2 separate regions of the Homo sapiens genome follow, and region 1 is linked to region 2. A link means that fine-mapping ties the variant in region 2 to the expression of a gene that starts in the linked region. Tissue or cell type: testis. Region 2 holds a variant in brackets; the other region holds the start of a gene. All regions are shown on one strand. Distances are between the middles of the regions.

The links. PIP is the estimated chance that this variant, and not a neighbour inherited with it, causes the effect.
Region 1: MARCHF8 starts here. The variant in region 2 is fine-mapped to the expression of MARCHF8 in testis (GTEx, PIP 0.94).

The regions. Positions count from the first base shown.
Region 1 is chr10:45,530,570-45,538,664 of GRCh38, forward strand. MARCHF8 (membrane associated ring-CH-type finger 8) reads right to left here and starts at 4,802. Exons shown (of 8, transcript NM_001282866.2): 1 at 4,642-4,802; 2 at 2,541-2,720. The coding sequence starts at 2,642.
Region 2 is chr10:45,657,615-45,665,721 of GRCh38, forward strand. It overlaps ZFAND4 (zinc finger AN1-type containing 4), which reads right to left. Exons shown (of 10, transcript NM_174890.4): 2 at 5,928-6,228. The coding sequence starts at 6,111. Among named protein-coding and RNA genes, the nearest start is that of ZFAND4, 11 kb to the right of the region's middle. The variant CATT/C (reference allele first, on the strand shown) is at 3,293.

The DNA of each region.
Region 1 (8,095 bases), 130 kb before region 2:
CCAGGAGTTTGAGACCAGCCTGGGCAATAGCAAGACCCCGACTCTACAAAATGAAAGAAAAACTTATCCAGGCATGGTCTATAGTGCCAGCTACTTGGGAGGTTGAGGCAGGAGGATCATTTGAGCCCAGGAGTTCGTGGCTGCGGTATGCTGTGATCACGCCACTGTATGCTAGCCTGGGCAACAGAGCAAGATCTGTACTCAAAAATAAGTAAAAAATAATAACAAAAATGAAAATAAAACTGACCGAAGTGAGGGAGAAAAGCAAACTCAGAATAGTCACACATGCCAACAATGACAGAAAAGAGGACTAAAACTGTCATTATAGCTGTTATTTCATATACTAAAAAAGTTGCATAGAGACATGGAAGATATAAAAAAGATCCAAAACAAATGTCTAGTGATAAAACATGTCTGAGATGAAAAACACACTAGACGGAATTACTGGCAGATTAGATATTGAAAAAGAAAATATTAATGAAATTATAAACAAAGTAATTGGAATATCCAAAATAAAATGCAGAAAGAAAAAATAACCTTAAAAAATTAAAAGTGCAGCAGTGGACAACTTTAAGCCAGTCAATGTGTATACTGGAGTCCCCAAAGAAAGAATGGGGGGACAGAAAAAGTATCTGAAGAATAGCCAAAAAGCTCCAAATTCTATGAAAATTGTAAACCCACTGATCCACAAGCACAACTTCAGAATACAAGAAACAAATAAAAAATATTTTTTAAATAAAGCTGAAAGAAGTCATTGTCAGCCAACTCACATTATAAGAAATGCTAAAGTCCTTTAGACAAAAGAAAAATGATAGATGGAAATACACCAGAAATGGTAATTATCTGAGTAAACAGATCTTTATTATTATTTAAAAGAAAAGTATTTAAAGAGAAAGTATTTTTTTAAATATATTCTAGGGTTTAAAATTTATTAAAAGACAATAATGAAAAGGCCAGAAGGAAAGAAATGAAAGTATACTATTGTAAGGTTCTCATACTGTATTTGAAATAAAAGATCATCTCCACAGTGACATGACCCATATCACTGAAACTGAATTCATATTCACTCATTCATTCATTCATCAACTGTATTGAGTACTGTATAAAAGTCATTAACCCTCTGTAGAAGTTATGGGCTTCAGCGAGGGTGTGTTAACAGATTAGACTAAGCAAACAGGTGGATTATTTGAGTCTAGGTAAAATGCAAGGGTTCACTCTTCTTATGGGACTCAGTAGGAATAATATCTCCCAAGCACAGGAGGATCAGAAATCATAGCAAAAGATTTTGGGTTGAACCTGTGCCAGGAAAAACTGCATAAATAAAAATGGGCTCCACTGGACAAAAATTTACCTTTCAAATCAAACCTGATACCACAATTGAGACCCTAGAAACACAACCACTATTTTCATCCTGTGCCATTGCTGCTGAAGCTCTCACGGGGCCCTGCAAGTTCCTGGTTCAACTGCTCTTCCACTACTGCCACCTCATCTGGGCTCCACGACACCCTGAACTGTCAGGCTGCCACTGGGTGTTCAAACCATCCCCACACTAAGGTAAGACAGAATGGTTTCTCTTTCTTCCCAATACCAATAAAAATCCCCATTCTACAAATAATTGATTAATGCTATTTATTTAGACCTTAAAAATCCCATCAAATAGATAAATTCAATAAGGCTTTATTAAATAACCACCTACAGTAAACCTGCAGTGAGGGTGTATATCAAAAAGAATCTCCCTTCCTGGCCTAACTGTTGGACATTTTCCTTTTTCTATTCCAAACAAGTTTGTATAGCTTCCCCATGTACACACTATTATGGACTAAATGTTTATGTTTCCCACAAAACTTTTATGCCAGAACTCTAATCCATAATGTAATGGTATTTGGAGGTGGGGCCTTGGGGAGACAATTAGGTCCTAGGGGTGGAACCCTCTCCATGGGATCAGTCCTTCTATATGAACAGCCACATGACAGCTTGCTTCCTTCCTCCCTCTATGCCATGTGAGGACACAGCAAGAAGGCAGCTGTTTATAAGTCAGGAAGTAAGACCTCACCAGAATCCAACCATGCTGGCACCCTGATCTCAGATTTCCAGCCTCCAGAACTGTGAGAAATAAATGCTTGTTATTTAAACCACCCAGGCTATGGCATTTTGTTACAGCAGCTAGGGCAGACTAAGACACATATTAAGAAATTCCAGCCATCTGGTGTCCAAATTTCACACTACGATGAATAGGAAACTAGCAGCATCATGTTCTGAGAATCCAAAGAACTTAGTCACAGTGATTAACCAAAAATAATCAGGTAGATTTAACCAATGAAGATAAGTCATTTATAACCATTTATAAACAGTAGTTTACACCAAAATCTGAAAACCTAGAAATCTACAAAAAGACAATTCCTTCTGAGTACAACTATTTGTGTGCTTGTCAGTATATTATCAGAGAAAACCTGACCTTTAGAGTTTAAGCACTGTTCTAGGTCATCTTTAATAAAAATTTAATAAAAATAATGAAACTAAAAAAGATACTCTCCCAGTACCTGTTCTTCCCTCTCCTTTTCTTTGGTCTTACTTCTGTAGACTCTAGCAGAGATGGCATCCTGGGATGGAATGGCAGAGATCTGATGCAGTGGCATGCTCATCCCAACCTCTTATCTGGTCGTCTTCTTCACAGAAGAGAGTCTCCACTGGTAGAGTCATTTTGGGCCATGGATTTCAAGCTGAGAGAAAATGAAGAGAGAATAAACATAACTCAGCTAAAACACTTTAAATTTCCAAGAGTGAGCTTAACATTTTATACTTATATTCATATGTATATTTAAATAAGTTACGGCAACATAAATGTTTGGTCTTCAAAAACAATAGAAGATGAATGTCTAAGGGGAAAATTCTAACATTTCTCATAATAAGATGGGAGCACCTGAAAGAGGCAGGTGGATCACGTACATGTATAATCAGAGATATAATCTTCCATTGGCTACTTAGGATTAAAACAAAGCAGTGCCACCATTTATTTTAAGAATATTTTTGAAGTTAAACTTTTTTTTTTATCATGACCAAGCATTTGTCCTGAAATAAGCAGTGATCTTTCCTTAAAACCACTGTCTGTGAGTCCACATAATGGTGAGATCAGAGGTTAGGAAGTCCAAATTAAACTCAAGGTATCTATGATCCATACTTAACCTTCCAAAAGTAGAGACTCTACACGAGCTGTTGGCAAACTATTCCTATAAAGGGCAAGATACATATTTTAGGCACTGTGGTCCAAGTGTGTTCCAGCTAATTAACTCTGCCACTGTAGCATGAAAGCACCCATAGAGAGCATGTAAATGGGCCGGGTGCGGTGGCTCATGCCTGTAATCCCAGCACTTTGGGAGGCCAAGGCGGGCAAATCACGAGGTCAGGAGATCGAGACCACCCTGGCTAACACGGTGAAACCCTGTCTCTACTAAAAATACAAAAAATTAGCCAGGCATGGTGGCGGGCGCCTGTAGTCGCAGCTACTCAGGAGGCTGAGGCAGGAGAATGGCACAAACCCAGGAGGCGGAGCTCGCAGTGAGCCAAGATCGCACCACTGCACTCCAGCCTGGGTAACACAGCGAGACTCCAACCCCCCAACCTCCCCCCCACCAAAAAAAAAAGAGTATGTACATGAATGAGCATAGTTATGTTCCAATAAAACTTTATTTACAAAAATAGGCAGCAGGCTAGATTTGGCCCACCAGACTATAGTTTGCCAAACACTGCCGTAAAGGGTTTCCTAGGGAATATGAAGGGTCACCATGACATGCCTAAGAACCATGAGAAAGGCTGCCTTTAGGTAAAATAACAGTGTATGCATAAACTGTCTTCAGTGATTCCAGGTACTCCTGCCCTGTTTCTGGTTTTCTCTTACGCATCCCCCAAAATGTCTAATAATTGAATTGTGTGTTGTTCTTTCTCCCCACTTACCCACTGAGATCTATCCCACTCTGTATACAAAACCAATTAAACGTAAATTATCCAGAAGGTTTAATGTAGTAAAATGTTTCATGTTGTTCAAATTTTAACAGAAAATGGAAGCCTTCAACCAAAAGAATGAATCTCGAATTTGGAGATTTTCATTTATTAACCATGTGCTGGGGTAGGGGGTGGGGACAGGTGAGGCAGTAGGAAAAGGTAGGGTAAACAACAGGGCCTGACAACCCCAAGGTCACATTTGATAAGCAGTCACTTACTCTACCTCTCCCCAAACTCTACTCTGGATCAAAGGCAGGTGTTTGTAAGGCTGGTGCCAATTCTTAGTAGTGTCACTAAGCAAGCAGAGGAGCACCAGGAATCACGAAATGGCTTCCTTCACACAACTCTAGAATCAATGAACAACAAAAAGGAACAAAAACTGGGAGGGATCAACACATAGAAGAAAATTAGCTAAAATAATAATCTGTTTATAAAGTCTAGTTTTACAGTAAGTGAGTGACCATTGATAATAACAACAAAAAAAGGAAAATAGAATAGGGGATGTTAGTGTCTAGGTATCACACACCACCTACTCTATTTCAAGCCTTTGATGAGGCTGGCATAAGATGGAGCACTACTGTGCCCAAGAAACAGTCTGAATGTTTGTATTCAAGCACGTCACACAAAACAAGAGGCACTTACTGCGGAGCTGCCTTATACTCCCTGGGAGATCACAATAGTCAGTGGTAAGCAGTTTTTTCATCACTAATGCACTAACGTCCTCTATTACAGATGACAAACTCCATGGGGCCTCTTGGAATACTTGGTCAAACTGACGATATCCACAGCCCTATACCTACCATGCCAAAAGCTACCTGTGGTGCTTCTGATATAATCATCATTATTACATCATTGGTACATGCCCATGACAAGCCTGAGAAGGGCTATTTATGGCACAGAAACACAGATGCAAGAGGGTCTCAAATTTTTTACAGTTTTGAAGGACATCCCTCCTCACTGTCATTGAAGTTAGTCTTTTGATATGTACCACCACAACAAAGCAACAGACCTATAAGTTTGCCTGAAACAATCTCCCTCCTATGCCACACATATTTAGGATAAAAATGAGTTTACAAACAAACGATAAAACAGGCCATGCCATTTTTTATGTGAAGATTTACATGAAAAATACAAATCATATATTACATTATTTTCTTTGCATAATTTCCAAACATCTTTTATATCAACTAAATTAATCTTTACACAGAATAACAGTTAAACCTCAGCACTATGCCTCACAATCCAGGCATGAGGGCTTCAATTTGACTAATGCTAACTTGCAAAATACAGCCCACCTAACATGAACATTCACATCTAGAAGAGATACTGCCAAAGCTGGTTGTTGAAGAAATTGGAAATGGATGTCCATGTTCATGGATCAGAAGATTTAATATTGTTAAAATGGCAATTCTTCCCAAGTTGACATAGAGAGTCAAAGCAATCTCTATCAAAAACTGAGCTGACTTCTTTACAGAAATTTGACAAGCTGATCTGAAAATTTATATAAAATTCAAGGGACTCAGATCTGCCAAAACAACCTTGAAAAAGAACAAAGTTGGAGAGCTCACATTTCCAGATTGCAAAACTTACAACAAAGGAACAGTAATCAAGACTGTGTCATACTGGAATATGAATAGATATATCAATGGAATAGAATTTAGGGCCCAGAAATAAACCCACGTATCTATAGTCAGCTGATTTTCAAGAAGGGTGCCAAGATCACTTCTTGGGGAAAGAGTACTGTTTTCAACAAATGGTGCTGGGACAACTAGATAGCCACATGCAAAAGAAATTTGGATCTCTTCCTCACACAAAAGGAAAAACAGACAAACTACACATCATCAGAATAAAAACTTTTGTGCTTCAAAAGACACCACTGAGAAAGGGAAAACACAGCCAGTCATAATGGTTCACACCTATAATCCCAGAACTTTGGGAGGCCAAGGCAAGAGAATCTCTTGAGGCCAGAACTCAAGAAAGGCCTGGGCAATATAGCAATACTCTACCTCTATTTATAAATGTTAAAAAAAAAAAAGTCTAAAGACAACTGACAGAAGAAAAAGTTTGCAAATCATATATGTAATAAGGGACTTGTATCTAGAATATATAAACAACTCTCTTACAACTCAGTAACATAAGGGCAAGGCCAGGTGCAAGTAGCTCACGCCTATCATCTCAGCATTTTCGGAGGCTGAGGTGGGAGGACTGCTTCAGGCCAGGAGTTCAAAACCAGTGTGTGAAACATAGCGAGGCCCCATCTCTACCAAAATAATAATAATAATAATAATAATAATAATAATAATAATAATAATAAAGACAAATAACCCAATGAAAAATGGGTTAATCAACATCATTAGCCATCATGGAAATACAAATCAAAACTATTAGATATTACTTTAATTATGTTCATAATAAAAGACAAACAAGTGTTAGCAAGGATGTTGTGACACTGAAACCCTCATATACTGCTAGTGAGGATCTATGCAGTCGTTTTGAAAAATAGTCTGGCTCTTTCTCAAAAGGTTAAACATGTTATCATATGACCCAACAACTTCAATCCTAGGGTATATACACCAAAGAGAAATGCAAACATCTCCTCATATGAAAACTTGTCCATGAATGTTTCTATCACATTACTCATGATAGCCAAAAGGTGGAAATAACCTAAACGTCCATCAAATGATAAACGGATAAATCAAATAAGCTATATCCATTCAACGGAATCATATTCAGCAATAAAAAGAAATAAAGTACTGACACATGCCACAATATGGACGAACCTTTAAAAAGTTATGCTAAGTAGGCCAGGTGTGGTGGTTCGCGCCTATAACACCAGCACTTTGGGGGGCCAAGGTGGGTGAATCGCTTGAGCCCAGGAGTTCCAGACCAGCCTGGGCAACATGGCAAAACCACATCCCTACAAAAAACTCAAAACTTAGCCGGGTGTGGTGGCTCATGCCTGTGGTCCCAGCTACTCAGGAGGCTGAGTTGGGAGGATCGCTTGAGCCCAGAAGGTTGAGGCTACAGTGAGCCGGTATGGCGCCACTGCACTCCAGCCTAGGTGATACAGTGAGACCTTGTCTCAAAAAAAAAAAAAAAGAAAAGAAAAAAATTATACTAAGAAGCCAGTCACAAAGAACCATATATTACATGATGACAGTTGTATGGAATGCCCAGAGGAGATAAATCTATAGAGACAGAAAGTAGAGCAGTGCATGCCAAGAGCTGGGGTAGGAATGGGTAAACGGGAGGAAGCAGTGGATTCAATGATTTATTTTTAGGATAATGAAAATATTCTAAAATTGACTATGGTGCTGGTTGCAGAACTTTCGAGTATATTAAAGCCATAGAAATAGTAAAAGGACTAAGATAGATAGAGAAAATTTTAATTTTTCCTTTGTGTTATCCCTAATCTAACTAATCTAGATGACATGGAGATGGCTACTGTTGCCCTATCTCACTCACCCTTCCAGTTTTAAGAAGGCGATAGAAAGAGTACAAAGGTTGGGTTACCCACAAAGGGAAGCCCATCAGACTAACAGCTGATCTCTCGGCAGAAACTCTACAAGCCAGAAAAGAGTGGGGGCCAATATTCAACATTCTTAAAGAAAAGAATTTTCAACCCAGAATTTCATATCCAGCCAAACTAAGCTTTGTAAGTGAAGGAGAAATAAAATCCTTTACAGACAAGCAAATGCTGAGAGATTTTGTCACCACCAGGCCTGCCCTAAAAGAGCTCCTGAAGGAAGCACTAAACATGGAAAGGAACAACTGGCACCAGCCACTCAAAAACATGCCAAATTGTAAAGACCATCAAGGCTAGGAAGAAACTACATCAACTAACGTGCAAAATAACCAGCTAACATCATAATGACAGGATCAAATTCACACATAACAATATTAACCTTAAAAGTAAATGGACTAAATGCTCCAATTAAAAGACACAGACTGGCAAATTGGATAAAGAGTCAAGACCCATTACTGTGCTGTATTCAGGAAACCCATCTCACGTGTAGAGACACACATAGGCTCAAAATAAAGGGATGGAGGAAGATCTACCAAGCAAACGGAAAACAAAAAAAGGCAGAGGTTGCAA
Region 2 (8,107 bases):
TGCTTCCATAAAAATGTGTATGTGAAAGTTTATATGGCTTTATTTGTAATCACCAAAAACTAAAAACCACCCAGATGTCCCTCAACTTGGGAATGAGTAACTATGGTACTTCCTTATAATGGAACATTACTCGGCCATAAACAGAATGAACTACTGATACATATAACAATATGATAAGTCTCAAACATATTATGCATAAGTGAAAAAAACCAGACTTAAGAGACTATAAAGTATATGATTTCATTTATATAAAATTCTAAAAAAGGCAAAATTACAGGAACAGAAACAGATCAGTGGGTATGATAGGGGCTTGGAATAGAGGAAGGGATTGACCACAAAAGGTACAGGAGAATTCTGATAGGTGATGGAACTGTTCTATATCTTGATTGTGGTGGTGACTGTATGATAGTAAATGTCTGCCAACACCAACAGAACGATATACTTGTTATGATATACTGTGTCCCTTCAAAATTCTTAGGTGGAAGTCTAAGCCTCTTATACCTCAGAATGTGACCTTAACTTGAAGACAGAATCTTGACATATGTATTCAAGTTAAAGTGAGCTAACTAGGGAGGGCCCTCATCCAATATGACTGGTATCCATATAAAAAGGAGAAATTTGGAGGCAGATACACACAGACACAAGGAGATTATCACATGAGAAGACCAGGGTGATGCCTTGAATAAGCCAATGAACTAGAAAGATTGAAAGCAAACCCCCAGGAGCTGGGTGAAAGGCATGTGACAGATTCTACAGCCCTCAGAAGGACCTGACACTGTCACCAACTAAATCTTGTATTTTCAGCCTCCAAAATCGTGTAACTTTCTGTTAAGTCACCCAGTTTGTGATACTTTGCTATGACAGCCCTAGCAAACTAATACAATATGTGAATTGTATGATATGTAAATTATATCTTCCTAAAAAATAGTTTGTTAGAATTTGGAGACAAATAAAAACATGCTCAGTATTATTAGTTAGCAAATTAAGAATGTGTATAAACTAAAAAAAATGATCGAAGCTGTCTAATCGTATATATTGCTGTGATTACAAAGCCCTTAAAGAACTATTATAATTTTTTAAACAAAAAAATATTTTTAGCAAAACAAATACTTGGAATTTAATAACACTGACATTCAACTTACCAAAAACTTGTAGGATATAGCTAACACAGTTATTGGAATTTTAAAATAAACGGTTATGTTTTTAAGAAGTTGAGACTCCTAGTTTCAGCTCTGATATATGGAGAACTTTTAATTCACCACTCCTTACAAGAAAAAAAGCTGAACAAACCGAAAACCAACAACTTTTCTTTGTGCCATCAGAGAAATTAGGTAGTAAGGTAAATCACCATAAGAAAATCTGTTGAGATAGGCAAACCCAGAGAGTCAGAGCCAAGATCCATTTACGTGAAGCTGAAGCCTCTAAAGTCATAAACTGGAAGGAACACTTGAATGGTAATTTTGATGAATTCATAGAGGCTGAGTGTGGACTAGTATGAGACTGGGAAATTATTGAGGGCCAGAAACCAGGCCCCTCTAGCCTCCCTACCTCACCTAAACTACTAGAAGTTGAAGGAGGGGAGAAGCTAAGATACACTTTGAAGGTCCCAGCCTAGAGGCACAGGCCCACTGCAAGATTTAATCATAAGATTACAGAATGTTCCCCCTCTTCCCAATACCTCACCACCACACTAACAAGGCTCCAGTATAACAACAGTGGATTACAACGGAAAGAATTGTAAGACGCAAACTCTAAGGAGGAGTCTTTAGGGAAACTCAAAGGCAACAGGGGAGACAAAACAAGAAAAAACTAGAGGAATTTGAAGGCTCTGGCACTTATAACTACAGCAAACATTAAACACAGCCCAATTTCTAGCAAGTTGAAGATAAAACCTCACTCTAATGTCCTATTTACCTCAATTCCTATTACCTGATATGTTATGTCTGGTTTTCAACTAAAAATTACAAAGCATGCTAAAAGACATGAAAAAATATGGTATGAAAAGACAAAACTAGCATCAGAAATAGACTCAGGTATGTCAGAGATCTTGAAATTATCAGACAGGGAAATTAAAACAGCTAAGATTAATATGCTAAGAAATCTAATGGAAAAGTATACAACATGAAATAACAGATTGATAATACAAGCAGAGATGGAAACTTTAAGAATAAAAAGTAGATGTTAAAAATAAAAGCTCCAACAGAAATAAAGAATGCCTTTGATTGGTCATCTGCAGACTGGATCTGGAAAAGAATTGGGAAGTTTGAAAAATGGCAACAGAGGCCGGGCGCGGTGGCTCACGCCTGGAATCCCAGCACTTTGGGAGGCCGAGACAGGCGGATCCCGAGGTCAGGAGATCGAGACCATCCTGACTAACACGGTGAAACCCCGTCTCTACTAAAATACAAAAAATTAGCCGGGTGTGTAGTCCCACCTACTCGGGAGGCTGAGGCAGGAGAATGGCGTGAACCCAGGAGGCAGAGCTTGCAGTGAGCCAAGATCACACCACTGCACTTCAGCATGGGCGACAGAGCGAGACGCATCTCAAAAAAAAAAAAAAAAAAGAAAAATGGCAACAGAAACTTCCTAGGCAAGGCACAGTGGTATGCACTTGTAGTCCCAGCTACTTGAAAGGCTGAGGCACAAGGATTATTTGAGTCCAGGAGGTCGAGTCCAGCCTGGCCAACATAGTGAAATCCCATCTCAAAATAAATAAATAAATAAAAGAAACAAAGAAAAGAAAATAAACTTGGCAAAACGGACTGTTAAGAGAAAAAAGAATGCACAAAAACAACATCTATTAACTGTGGGACAATTTCAAAAGTTGTGGCAATTTCAAAAGGTGCCACTAGAATATCAGAAGAAAAAATGAGACAGAAGAAATACTTAAATAATGGCCCAGATTTTCCAAAATTAATGAAACATACCAAACCACAGATCCAAGAAGCTCAGAGAATACCAAACACGATAACTACCAAAGAATCTACACCTTCAACATATTATATCAAACTGTAGAAAAGCAAAGACAAAGACAAAATTCTTAAATCAGCCAGGAAAGGGAAAAAAACACCTTACCTAAAGAGAAGCAAAGATAATTACTACAGGGGAGTTTTCATCAGAAATCATGCAAATAAGAAAAGACTAGAGTGAAATATTTAGTGTTGAAAGAAAAAAAATACCAACTTAGAATTCTATACCCTGAAATATTATCCTTCAGAAATGAAGGAGAAATACTTTTTCAGACAAACAAGAAACGTTAAAAGATGGCTTTTTTGCAAGAAACGTTAAAAGA[CATT/C]ATTCACAGAAAAAATGATGTAGGTCAGAAACTAAGATCTACATAAAGAAAGCAAGAGGTGGAATTTGTTGCCAGTGGACCCATATTGCAAGAAATGTTAAAAGACATTCTTCACAAAAAACAGGATGTAGGTCAGAAACTCAGATCTACATAAACAAAGGAAGAGGGCTGGGCCTGGTGGCTCAGGTCTGTAATCCCAGCTCTTTGGAAGGCTGAGGCAGGAGGATCACTCTGCTAAGCACTTCACCTTTAACTCATTTAATCCTGAGAACAACCCTTTGAGATAAATACTATTATTCTTCCTATCTTAGACTGAGACAACTAAGATACAGAGAGATTAAGTAATTTGGGCAGCCAGTAATCTGAAGCCAGGCAGCATGGCTTCGGCACTCCAGTCCCTTTTTCAAGGCCCATTGTAAATCCCTGAGCAGGCCCTGCTCCTCCCTTGCTGCAGCCTCCTTGTTCCTAATGCAGCACACTCCTTCAGTCCTTTCTCCACTAGCCCCTCCATCCTCCCCACTCTCCCCACCAGGCTCTAGTTCTCAACTCACCAAAAACTTCCCCTAAAGAAAAAGCAGTCTGGCAGAGTAATCATTTTCCCAGCAGGACGAACCCAAGCAGCCTCATCTCTGCCCTCCGTATTCCATATCCCTCTAACTTGGAGAATCTGACTCACACCATGTGACCCCAAATGTCTTCCAGGATATAAATATAAAGATCACCCAGAAAGGGCTTAAAATGTGTTTTTCAGCTGGGTTAGGTGGCTCACGCCTGTAATCCCAGCACTTTGGGAGGCCGAGGCAGGTGGATCACCTGAGGTCAGGAGTTCGAGACCAGCCTGGCCAACATGGTGAAACCCCATCTCTACTAAAAGTGCAAAATCAGTCAGGCATGGTGGCGCATGCCTGTAATCCCAGCTACTCGGGAGGCTGAGGCAGGAGAATCGCTTGAACCCAGGAGGCGGAGGTTGTGGTGAGCAGAGATTGCGCCATTCTCCAGCCTGCGCAACAGGTGCAAAACTCCGTCTCGAAGAAAAAAAAAAAAAAAAAGATACTATGTTCTCTCTCTGCCATGTGAAAATGCAGTGAACAAGCCTAGAGGACAGCCCCCACCAGAACCTGCCCATGCTGGTACCCTGATATTCAGCCTTCAGACAGTGAGAAATAAATTTCTGTTGTTTAAGCCACCGGTCTGTGGTATTTTGTTATGACAGCTCCAGCAGACTAAGATAGTAGGTATTTTACATATTACCTTATTTAATTTCCTAATATCTGTATTTGTTCATAAACATTTAAACTTAGATTCAATTGTCTAATAACCAAAAAGCCACTGCTTTTGTCCCCACAATGTCTCCTCCTACAGAGACAAGGACTCTATAACTTGGCTCTGGTTCTGACTCATGGAAACTAAATATTTCCCTTGGATGAGTTATTAATCTCCTCTAAACCCAAGTTGACTCTTCTGACATAAAAAGATTGAAACAGGATTCTCTCTAAAGTGCTTTTGCTGCATACAAATTATTTAAAATTCATGAAAGAGATAAAAAGTACAGAGATTATTTACAACGCAAGATTTCACCTTCATGCTCCAAAAAAGGTATCCTTTAAACTATGATATAAATTGCAAAGCAGAACGAAGTCAAAATAAACTATCATGACTCTAGATCTCACCAAATCATTTAGGGCAGACAAAAGCTTCAAGAGTCATTACTGAATGTGCTGATGTGGTCACTGGACTCGGCCAGCCACTCACTTCAGTAGGATCTCCTGGGTCTAGAGAAATAGCAAATATTCAGGAGCTCATATATATCCTTGGCCTCACAAAAATGAAAAATTCTAACCCTCCTCATCCTTCTATAATTCTGAACTTAAACCAGCTGGAGGGCAACCCTAGTCACTACCTTTATATTACAAGCAAGTTCCAGCTGGTTCCATCAACAAAGATCCATTTACTGTTATATGGAACAATTTAATTTTCTACTAAAAACTGGATTTTTAACAACTATAAATGGCAAACATTACTTATTGCAGAAATCTGCAAAATGCAAAGACTAATTTTAATAAAAATTAGTCTTTTTAGGCACTTTCTGCAAATATACAAACCACAAAAGAGACATTACACATTATTCAGCACCCCTGCTATACTAAGGGAACTTTGAATATACGTAAATGTAAGCCAAAGACTCTTTTCGGAAAACCTCCACATTAAAAAAAAAAAAAAGGAGGGTGGTTGCAAAGCAGTGTAAAAAGGGAAATAAGGTCCCTAGAAGGGAATATAATTACTATTTCCCATTAAAAGTAAAATATAAAGTAACATTAAAAGTAACTATAAAATAGTTAAGGCATAATTTGCAGGTCACCATAACCTGCTGAAAGCTATTCTAAAATATTATTTCACACCATAGCATGATGCCAGGGATTTGTTTCCAAAGAATCTGGTGAACACAGCAATGGGGATAAAATAGTTCATAAGCTGATAAATGTTGGAGAGAGGGAGTAGGAGGGGGTTCATTATCTTATTCTAACATCATATATGTTTGAAATTGTCTCCATTAAAATACTTTAAAAACTACTAGACATTATTGATGAACAAATTTAATTTTCATATCCTAAAAACAAAGAAAGATGAGTACCTTCCAATCTTCGAATTTTTGCTTTCACAGAAATAACAGTTTCAAAAGGTGAAACTCTCAGCTCAAAACATGTTCCAGTTAATGTTTCAATGAAGAGCTCCATGGTATCACAGAAATGAAGTCTGTAGTAAAATGGTCCCATGTTATCATCATTGAAGAATGGAGGCTCTTTTCTGTTATCCATTACTTTGACTTTTCTAGTTCTTCTAAAATATGTCGCAGGCAACTGTATTCCAGTTCTAGGCAAACCAGGTTTGAAGATTGGTAATATATATTGTTGTTCATGTTTTGAGTTTTGTACCTAAAAAAACAAGAATTTTTTTAACAAGCCTATCTGAAAGTTGTATTTGTCCATAAAGATTTTCCGTTAACTGTGGCCCATATCAATCTTCCAGACGGCCCCAGAATTCACTTTAGTGCTTTTAATTATGTCTAATCCTGAACTTTTCACATTTGTCTCTGAAATCACTCTCCCATCTAGACCATAAGATTATTAAGAATACGCATATTTTTGATATTATAATGTATCTTACTAGAGCTCAGCACAGTTATATATATAGTACATGCTCAACAAATACTTTTGTTGTTAAGTGATATATAAGCCAAACTCAACAAACACATCAGTATATTTCTGTAAGGCTTTGAAAAATTTATTCATATCCTTTTCTAAAACATACAAATTATGTCTTCTATACCATATAAAGCATAACTTTACAACGATTGTACATTTGACTTTTTTTTTTTTTTTGACAGAGTCTCGCTCTGTCGCCAGGCTGGAGTGCAGTGGCACAATCTCGGCTCACTGCAACCTCCGCCTCCCGGGTTCAAGCAATTCTCCTGCCTCAGCCTCCCAAGAAGCTGGGATTACAGGCACCCACCACCATGCCCAGCAGATTTTTGTATTTTTAGTAGAGACGGGGTTTCACCACGTTGGCCAGGATGGTCTCGATCTCTTCACCTTGTGATCCACCCGCCTCGGCCTCCCAAAGTGCTGGGATTACAGGCGTGAGCCACCATGCCTACTCCTGTTGTATATTTGAATCATACTGGATAAAAGGAATGCCAACCACCATAATAGGTTGCTTAAAAATAGTACTCACTAGGCTGGGGGCTGTGGCTCATGCCTGTAATCCCAGCACTTTGGGAGGCCGAGATGGCAGATCATGATGAGGTCAGGAGATCGAGACCATCCTGGCTAACATGGTGAGACCCAATCTCTACTAAAAATACAAGAAAAAAATGAGCTGGGCGTGGCGGTGTCTGCCTGTAGTCCCAGCTACTTGGGAGGCTGAGGCAGGAGAATGGCGTGAACCCGGGAGGCAGAGCTTGCGGTGAGCCGAGATTGCGCCACAACACCCCAGCCTGGGCAACAGAGCAAGACTCTGGTCTCAAAAACAAAAAAAAGTAGTACTCACTAAATCATCAACGGTTTCCAGAGGATATTATAGCATTCAGATGACATTAGAATTGGTAATAAGTATTAGACAATCTCTGCTCACATACATACAATGGCTAATAAGTATGAGTGGTAAGCCCAACAAATAGAAGTAGTAAACTAAATGACAAGTATAGAACTAGGAGCACAAAAATGATCAAATTGCTATTGCTATTAATCGTGAAAACTCTATACAGGGGGGCCTTGAACTTAAACTAGGACAAATGATACACATCTTTCTGGTGAGGTGGTTAAACCTTTTTAAAAATAGCTTTATTGAGGGCCAGGCACAGTGGCTCACACCTGTAATCCCAGCACGTTGGGAGGCCGAGGTGGGCGGATCACCTGAGGTCAGGAGTTCGAGACCAGCCTGGCCAAAATGGCGAAACCCCATCTCTACCAAAAAATACAAAAATTAGCCAGGAATGGTGGCGCACACCTGTAGTCCCAGCTACTCGGGAGGCTGAGGCAGGAGAACCGCTTGAGTCCAGGAGGCAGAGGTTGCAGTGAGCCAAGATTGCACCACTGCACTCCAACCTGGGTGACAGAGCAAGACTCCATCATTAAATAAGAAAAAAAAAGCTTTATTGAAATATAATTCACATGCCATAAAATTCACTCATTTAAAGCCTAAAATTCACTGGTTTTTATGATGTACACAGAGTTGTGCAACAATCACCACATTTGCTTTAGAAAATTTTCATTACCTCTAAAAGGAACCCCATACCCTGTAACCAACACTCCC